Linked DNA regions of Homo sapiens: region 1 is linked to region 2. Evidence: fine-mapped expression QTL. A gene starts in region 2. The other region holds a variant in brackets. All regions are shown on one strand. Distances are between the middles of the regions.

Region 1 (4,395 bases), 27 kb before region 2:
TGGGCATGAAAGTTGCTTGGGAGCGACTGGAAAGTTAGTGTGTCTTAAGACCAAAACCCTGTGCTCAGTGTTAGAGCTCAAAGATAAATGAGCTTCTGGAATAGCCTATAGTCTAGGAGGAAGGTAGATAAAATTGCAGGCAGACGTGCTAAGTGCCACAAAAGGAGAATCTACCACTTTCTCAATCACCATTGAAACTTAGAGGCAAATCATGGGGCACAGCAGCCACTGATCTCATCTTTCTTTACTTCCTGTATCTCTGAACATCTCATATATTGGGCATACATCTTAACTCATGTAATTTCCTCCCTTTTTGCTAACAGGTGGTGTACACAATCCCTGCAGTACTGACCCTGCTTGTTGGACTTAACCCTGAAGTCACAGGTATAAGCCTTGCATTCTAAATGGAGAGACAGCAAATCAGATTTCCTCATAATAATGAGGGTCTATCTGCCCAACTCCCAGGAGTAAAACGGGGCTCTCTAGGCCTTTCTTCTCATTTCTGATAATAAAAGGGGCTAATTCTAATCATCCTTACCCATCTTCAGGAAAACGTCAGAAGGATCTGCTATAAAACAGCGTCTTCTGTTTTATAGAAGTGAGAGGACAGATTCTTCTTCACTTTCTTTAAAACAGTTTCTCCTAGTGGGGCTCGAATGTTCTCAGGGGCCTTAGAATAAAGACTAATGAGTCCCACCTTAGTGGGGAAAATTCTAGTTCCCTAGATGCCTGGGCTCCTTGTATAGGCAGCTAGAACTCCGTCTGCATCTTTAAGGTAGATCAGTTAGGGCTCCTTTAGATACAAGCTAGAAAATAACTCAAATGTGCTATGAGCTGAGAAGAAAAGGTATTGGTACAGTTTACTGAAAAGGTGAAGGGTGGTGCTGGCTTCAGACTGGTGGACTCGGAACTTTACCTTCTCTCCACCTCTCAGTTCCACCATCTGTCATGCTAACTTCACTCTTGGGCTCCACACAGTGGCCCTGCAGCCCCCCATTCACATCTTCACGATGCCACGTCCAGTGGAATATGGACTGTGTTTCTTCACTCTACCAAAGTCTCAGAATGCAGTTGCTGGCTCTGATTGCTTGTCCGTTTGTGCTGATCCAAATCACTGTGGCTGAGGAGATAACATGTATTGATTGACCTAGCCAAAGTCCAGTTCACTGGGAAACATGGACTGTGAGTGTGGACATGGTGGATCCCCAGAGAAAATAAGGGTAATCATCCTAGGAAGGGGAGCTGCTGAACAACCCAAACAAGAAATGGCCACTGAAGTTTATAATTAGTGCTGTGACCTCTGTGTTGTCCTAAAACAAAAAGGGGCGATGGGGCTGAGGGAGTCTGAATGTCTTTTCTGAAAGCAGACTATGGCAAAACATACAAAAAGATCATTTTTTTTTTCTGTGGGCTGTGATTCCGTGGTTAACAACATCAGAACATCTATTTTTAGGTAATGTTATTTGGAAAAGTATCTCTGCAATACACATACTCTTTTGTACGGTGTGGGCTGTTGGCTTGGCGTCCTACCTCTTGCATCGTACACAACAGAACATCTTACATGAGGAAGAAGGCAGGTGAGCGGTGACGGTTACCCTGTGGAGGGATAGAACTGTGGGATAGAACTAAGGAATCGTGTTTGCAACACCTCATCTGTGCACAATGATAACTGAATTCCCCCAGTGTACCCTGTGGAGGAGGCAAGGTATTATCTTCTTTATAACCTGATGAAACTGAGGAAATAATGGAGCCAGGATTCAAACCCAGCCCCATCTATCAGGCTTCATTATCACTGCTAGTGGCAGTCACTACATATTACATTATATTACTGTCAGGCCGTTGGACTTTGGCCCCCTTGTAACTAGCAACGGTATGATACAGTAATACTCAGTCCGATCTAATATGGTGATAACTCTGTCAGCCTCAAATTCAGTTCTGGTTTAAGCCAGAATCTTATCTACAAGTATGAGCAGCCATCTCAGAGGTCAGTCCTTTTTTTTTTTTTTT[TG/G]AAACGGAGTCTTGCTCTGTCACCCAGGCTGGAGTGCAGTGGCGCGATCTCTGCTCACTACAACTTCCGTCTCCCAGGTTCAAGCTATTCTTCTGCCTCAGCCTCCTGAGTAGCTGGGATTACAGGTGCGTGCCACCACGGCCAGCTAATTTTTGTATTTTTAGTAGATACAGAGTTTTATCACGTTGGTCAGCCTGGTCTTGAACTCCTGACCTCGTGATCCGCCTTCCTTGGCCTCTCAAAGTGCTGGGATTACAGGCATGAGCCACCGCACCCAGCCAAAAGATCAGTACTTTAAGTCAACCTGTTAGACTTGCCCTGGTATGTCTTGTGTCATTTCCTTGTCATGACCACTTGCTCCTATTTTATCACCTCTTCCTTTGCTTCCTCCCACCCTTGTCTCTGAGGACTTATTAATAGGTCCTTTTGTTTCTTTTCTACTCCTACTGCCATCTGCCAACAACAAAATTCATAGACCTGTAAGTTAAACATCACTGAAAAGGTGTTTCTTTGTTATAACCCCCAATCTTTAGAACACTGGAGAGCCAAACTATAGGTTGGGTCTGTAGATAAGAATGTAGACCAAATGGGTTGAATCACTTCCAGCATGAAGCCCATGGGTTATAGTGAACTCAGCCTGGGGCTTCTAGTGGTATTATGGCTGAAGTGATTGTTTTTTATTCTATGTAAAAGATATGTGCATATAATACATATTTATAGAAGCATATACCCACCCCCAAATTATTAGTCTGATTTGTACTACAAATCATTCCTCTCCCCTAGGAAGTGACCCAATCTCTTGTAGTATATACACAGATCATGTATTGGTTTGGGCTCATTCTGCCTCACACTGAAGCCTCTTTAAAAATGTAAAAGTATTGACTGATCAAATCTGGGATTTTCTTAGTTGCACTGTTTCTTCTAGCGACCTGAAAAAAGTGATGTATCTGTGGATTTTATAAAATATTCATTTCATTTTGGGGGGATCCACTTATAAATCAGGGCATAGTCAGGGATCTCATACCTGCCTTTTAAGATGAAATGTATTTTCATATGAGGCTTTAAATTCTCTGAAAAAAGTAATTTATGAATCATGGTCAGATTTGAAAATATTCCATCGATGCCATAGATCTTGAGGGAGAGTCAGTCACTCAATCAGAATGCGCTATCAGGTGGTCATGGAGAGAATGTGATGATATGCATCTCACTTGTAGCCACTTCCAAAATCTGAAATGTACACCCTTTTATAGGGAGCTGTCTGGTCTGGTGATTATTACAGCATGGATTATCCTGTGCCACAGTTCCTCAAAGTAAGTATTCAACTCATCACATCTTCACTTTGGGAGGCCGAGGCGGGCAGATCACGAGGTCAGGAGATCAAGACCATCCTGGCCAATATGGTCAAACCCTGTCTCTACTAAAATACAGAAAATTAGCCCTGTGTGGTGGCACGCGCCTGTAGTCCCAGCTACTTGGGAGGCTGAGGCAGGGGAATCGCTTGAACCCGGGAGACAGAGGTTGCAGTGAGCCAAGACTGTGCCACTGCACTCCAGCCTGGGCGACAGAGCAACACTCTCTCAAAAAAAAAAAAAAAAGAAATCACATCTTCGAGGCTGACAAAATCAGGTAGTAAGTGAAAATACTGCCATACAAGTAAAAACAGGAATCTTTTGAAAGAAATCTTCCCTTTTCTTAAGGGAAGTTAATAATAGTTGATTTAAAGTATCCTGGTCACTCTTGTCCACAAAAACCGTAGTTTTCTACAAGGCCCAGTATAGTCATGGGCAGTTGTCAGCCTAAAGGGTGTTCTTCAGGGTGAAGGGAAATGATCTCAGGAGGAAACTTAGAGATTCACGAAAGAATGAAGAGCAAAGACAATATAAGTGCGTGTGTACATATCGATGAATGTTAACTAATTAAACATATACAGGATAGAAATACATGACAACAGTGGCATAAAAGCTGGAAAAGAGTAAATGGAGTTTAAGCATTCTAAGGTCCTTTAATTGTGTGAGAAGAGATAAAAGTATCCATTTATATTAAACTTTGATAAGTCAAGGATTAATGTTGTAATCATTAGGGTAACCACTGGTAGCATTAAAATGAGTACAGAAGGCAGGAGAAGGGGAAGGGGAAACAGAAACAATAGGACAAATAGGAAGCATGTGTTAAGATATAGATTTAAACCCAAATATATCAGAAATTACATTAAATGTAAAGGTAAAGATTTCAGTTAAGAGTCAAAGAATCTCAAAGTATGTAAAAAGATTAAAAACCCAACTCTAGGCCAGGCGAGGTGGCTCACACCTGTAATCTCAGCACTTTGGGAGGCCGAGGCAGGCGGATCAACTGAGGTCAGGAGTTCGAGACCAGCCTGGCCAACATGG
Region 2 (4,395 bases):
AAGTTCACAAAAGTTAGGGCCTAGCTGTCCCCAGTCAAACCAGCCTAAAGTTATGTCAAGAACAAAATCTGATCACTATTGATAGAACCAATATCAGATGATACTAATCCATGCCCTGCTTCTCTCAAGAAAAATATCTAAATTGGGGCCGGGTGTGGTGGCGCAAGCCTGTAATCCTAGCACTTTGGGAGGCCGAGGCGGGCAGATCACGATGTCAGGAAATCGAGACCGTCCTAGCTAACATGGTGAAACACTGTCTCTACTAAAAATATATATATTTTTTAAATTAGACAGGCCTGGTGGCACGCACCTCTAGTCCCAGCTACACGGGAGGATGAGGCAAGAGAATCGCTTGAACCCAGGAGGCGGAGGTTGCAGTGAGCTGAGATCGCACCACTGCACACTCCAGCTTGGGCGACAGAGGGAGACTTTGTCTCAAAAAAAAAAAAAAAAAAAAAAGAAAGAAAAGAAAAATATCTAACTTGGAAAACAAAACATAAACCTCATTTGGTGACTTTGGTGGTTTCACAGCAGTAATAAAAGTGATAAGGTCTATAAGGGATAACACTGTAGGCGCCTTCTGGCACTAAAGTTTCATGGGTCCTTGCCATCAGGCTCAGGTGTTACTAGCAATTCATCCAAAATGCAGTTATAAAACACCTACTTTGAGCCAGGAACTATATTTTATATTTATTTTATTTATTTTTTAGAGGCAGAGTCTTGCTTTGTTGCCCAGACTGGAAGGCAGTGGCCCGATCACAGCTCACTGCAGCTTCAAACTCCTAGGCTCCAGTGACCCACTCACCTCAGCCTCCCAAAGTGATGGGATTACAGGCGTGAGCCACCACATCTGGCCCCAAGAACTGTTTTCAATGATAGCATTTTATTTAATATTATAAAATTAATATGAAGAAGTTGCTACTAAAAGAAGCACTTTAGCAAATAAAATTTAATAGATCAGGTAGAAACACTGACTTCAATCTTAATTTGGGTGGCTGATCAGGTAACCTACAATTGGGCAATCAGAGATGAACAATAATTTTGTATGCTATCTGCCTGACTACACAAGGTACTTTTATGTCTTTTTGTCAATTACAAGAAAAAATTATCCCTGGGCAAACAAATACACAAAGATAAAAGAGCAAAAATCCTACCCACAGGCAACTATAAGATAGAAAAAAATAGTTTGATTAACGACTTGAAGTGCTGAACAAACATTTAAGAACTTTGGCAGAAATTTCTGAAAATTCTAGTCCAACCGCGAATCAAGAAACACAGGTAACACTATGTTCCGTTACTGGGTTAGAGAACAGAACAGTTGGCTAGTTTGGCTAACTCATAGAAAACAAGCAAACCAACCATGCTCTGGTCCAACAATCATCAGAGCACGAGTTTCTCCTACTCAGAGTCGGTCCCATGGGGGAAAAAAAAGCCACACAGGAGCGGGATCTGTAGTTAAGGAAGATAATTAGAGGACGATTTTCCTTTTTTTATTTCTCTGTATTTTGTAAAGCAACCACCGAGGTAGGGGCGGGGAGGGAGTGGTTAATATTGCGGATATTAAGATATAAATAAAGGCAGATGAAATGAAGTTAGACTTTCACAAAGAACGAAAAACCTACGAATGCTCTTGGCCTCATTAACAAGGAACATAAGCAGTTCCAGATGAGGAACCCATAACAAACTTCAAATAACGAAACTGTAGGGAGCAAGGGAGTCCGTGAGAGTATTTTAAGAAACTGGGACCCAGGAAGACTAAGTTAACGGATGGGATATCATGCTGTCTATATTTCTTTACACACTGCTATGCTTTATTAATTAGGTTACATTATAATGTTAAATAACTAGAAGCGCTGGGCATTTAAAGTTCTTCCAGACCGCCCTAACCACTCAAATTATCCTAATTAGCAATTTTTTTTAAGTTAAAGACTATTTCAATCGCAATGGGTCGGTTTCTATTTCAAAGATGTAAAGGAGTCAACATTCTGGCACTTCCTCTTGGCCGGCAGGACGAGGTTGACAAAGTCGGCCAGACAAGGTAGGGTTATGGGGGCTGCCCAGTCCCGTGGGTCTCTAGGCAGTGTGTTCTCTCTTCCGAGGTGGGGGTGTCCCCGGCGCGAGGAGCTAGCTGTGGTCACCGAAGCCCACGACCAAAGCGGGGGCCCCCAGCGCTTGGGGCCGCCTTGCCTCGGCCCAGCCGCGCACCTGGACCCCTAAGGCAGCCCCCTTCCCGGCGCTCCGCTGTCCCGCGGCCCCGCAGCACCGCCCAGCCCGCGCCAGACCCGCCTCCAGCCGCAGGGAACTACCTACCGTGCGCCGGCCCCTGGGCTGAAAGGCCTCTGACTACGGGCTATGTAACAGCGCCACCAACGAGCGGGACGGACAGAGCGACTCCTTCCGACTTCCGGAGGAAGCGGAACGCTACCGGAAATCGCGGGGAGGGTCAAAGGAGACCCGGTCTCCGAGGCTCATGGCGATGCTGGTCCTAGTACCCGGACGAGTTATGCGGCCTCTGGGTGGCCAACTTTGGCGCTTCTTGCCTCGCGGACTCGAGTTTTGGGGCCCAGCCGAGGGGACTGCGAGAGTCTTGCTGAGGCAGTTCTGCGCGCGGCAAGCGGAGGCGTGGCGTGCCTCGGGGCGCCCTGGCTATTGCCTGGGAACCCGGCCCCTCAGCACTGCGAGGCCGCCACCCCCGTGGTCGCAGAAGGGCCCCGGAGACTCCACGCGCCCCTCGAAGCCCGGGGTGAGTGCACACCTGGAACCCTTCTGGTGCTCGTCGCGGCTGTCGGCCAGCCCAGCGGCCACATCCCACTTGGTCGTAACCTCAGACACTACTCCGCCTCCCCTAAAGTTGTCCTTAGCTTGCGCGCCTTACCTGGGTCATGGAATTTCATCCTACATTTCCCGTGCCTTGCGGGTAGTCCCAGTTCTCCACAGAGAACTTGAGACTTTACACCCTCTCCACGTGGCTGGATGCCCCGACTTGGATTTTATGTTAGCGTTTCCATCAAAAAAAAAAAAAAAATTAAGTTTCAGGTTTTCTTAAGGGTATGAACCTAAAGTTTACCGTGATTGAGAAGTCAGAGGACTTTTATAATTTGTCACTTGAGCCCCATCCAGAGTTCCATGTATACGTTGAAATTGAAACAAAAAGTGGAACTTAGTTATGTGTGGATCTGCCTTTTTCTTGGGGTTCTCTCGAGTTCTAATTCTGACCCAGAAATAACTTGAGAGCCACTACCCTGTGGTAAGAGAAGTGGGTTTTTGGAGCTACGGGAAGGTTAATGAGTTAGGCCTAGTCTAGTTGGCCAACATCATCTTCATTTGGGGAGTTGAATAAGGGTACAAAGAAATAATGGGTGTAATTTGCAAGAAGCTCCACTTTTAGATTCCTCTTCTACTTTGGCATTGTTACTTCTGGAAGCCAGAGTTAAGTTAACCTCCCAAATTTCGTTTGGTCTATTTATCTCAGTATCAGCATAAGCAGATAATTGTTTTTTGTGTGTGTGTTTTTGGATTTTGGTTTTTGTTTTGAGACGGAGTTTTGCTCTTTTGCCCAGGCTGGAGTGCAGTGGCCCTATCTCGGCCCACTGCAACGTCCGCCTCCCGGGTTCAAGCGATTCTCCTGCCTCAGCCTCCCGTGTAGCTGGGTTTAGAGGGGTCCGCTACCACGCCCGGCTAATTTTTGTATTTTCAGTGGAGATGGGGTTTCACCATGTTGGCCATGCTGGTCTCAAACTCCCGACCTCAGGTGATCCACCCGCCTCCGCCTCCCAAAGTGCTGGGATTACAGGCGTGACCCACCGCGCCCGGCCATAATTGGTTTTAAAGTCATTACTGGAGCTAGGGTCACACATAGTAACAATCGTGGTACTTGAGCTTTTTTTTTTTTTTTTTTTTTTTTTTATTTACATGAAGAGAACTGACTTAGGGAACTTTCCCCTGGAGATGAATGCCTTTGTAGTTCAGATCCCAGACCTAACTGCATCCACAGAAACTTTGAGCATTTTCTCATCCCTGAAACATTTTGCACATTTAACATCATGGCCTGTGTGTATGTATATTAAAAACTACTTTAATAAGTTTGTATGGTTAAATGTTTGCATCTTACTAGAATTTTTATGTTTGAAATCCCTGCCCCAGTAGCCTGTTTCCTGGAAGTCTTTAGCAATCACATTTGCTATTGGAGGAGCTTTACTGGCTGGAATGAAGCACGTCAAGAAAGAAAAGGCAGAGAGTAAGTAGATTATCATCTGCTCAGCCCTGTATAAAGGTCTTCCTGGCTATGGACTAGCACCTTTTTTGTTGTTTTTTAGCTTTTTGTTTTGAAACAACTTTAGATTTACCAAAAAATTGCAAAGATAGCATAGGTTCTACATACCTTTCACCCAGCTT

Alleles and levels. Positions count from the first base shown, and alleles are read on the strand shown. Sizes are in standard deviations (SD) of each study's normalised expression.
With allele TG in place of G in region 1, the expression in pancreatic islets of the gene that starts at base 2,445 in region 2 is lower (moderate effect, 0.63 SD a copy in PISA).

Evidence for each region. PIP is the estimated chance that this variant, and not a neighbour inherited with it, causes the effect. A credible set is the group of variants that fine-mapping cannot tell apart.
Region 1: its variant is the best candidate, but not a certain one, in a credible set for the expression of SCO1 in pancreatic islets (PISA, PIP 0.60).

What each region holds. Positions count from the first base shown.
Region 1 is chr17:10,722,193-10,726,587 of GRCh38, reverse strand. TMEM220 (transmembrane protein 220) reads left to right here. Exons shown (of 6, transcript NM_001004313.3): 3 at 324-384; 4 at 1,454-1,577; 5 at 3,259-3,318. Among named protein-coding and RNA genes, the nearest start is that of TMEM220-AS1, 5.4 kb to the left of the region's middle. The variant TG/G (reference allele first, on the strand shown) is at 2,008.
Region 2 is chr17:10,695,583-10,699,977 of GRCh38, reverse strand. It overlaps SCO1 (synthesis of cytochrome C oxidase 1), which reads left to right and starts at 2,445. Exons shown (of 6, transcript NM_004589.4): 1 at 2,445-2,743; 2 at 4,147-4,237. The coding sequence starts at 2,471. ADPRM (ADP-ribose/CDP-alcohol diphosphatase, manganese dependent) reads right to left here and starts at 2,384. Exons shown (of 4, transcript NM_020233.5): 1 at 2,311-2,384. RefSeq lists a silencer at 2,017-2,346 and enhancers at 2,467-2,516, 2,232-2,526, 1,820-2,644, 2,645-3,468.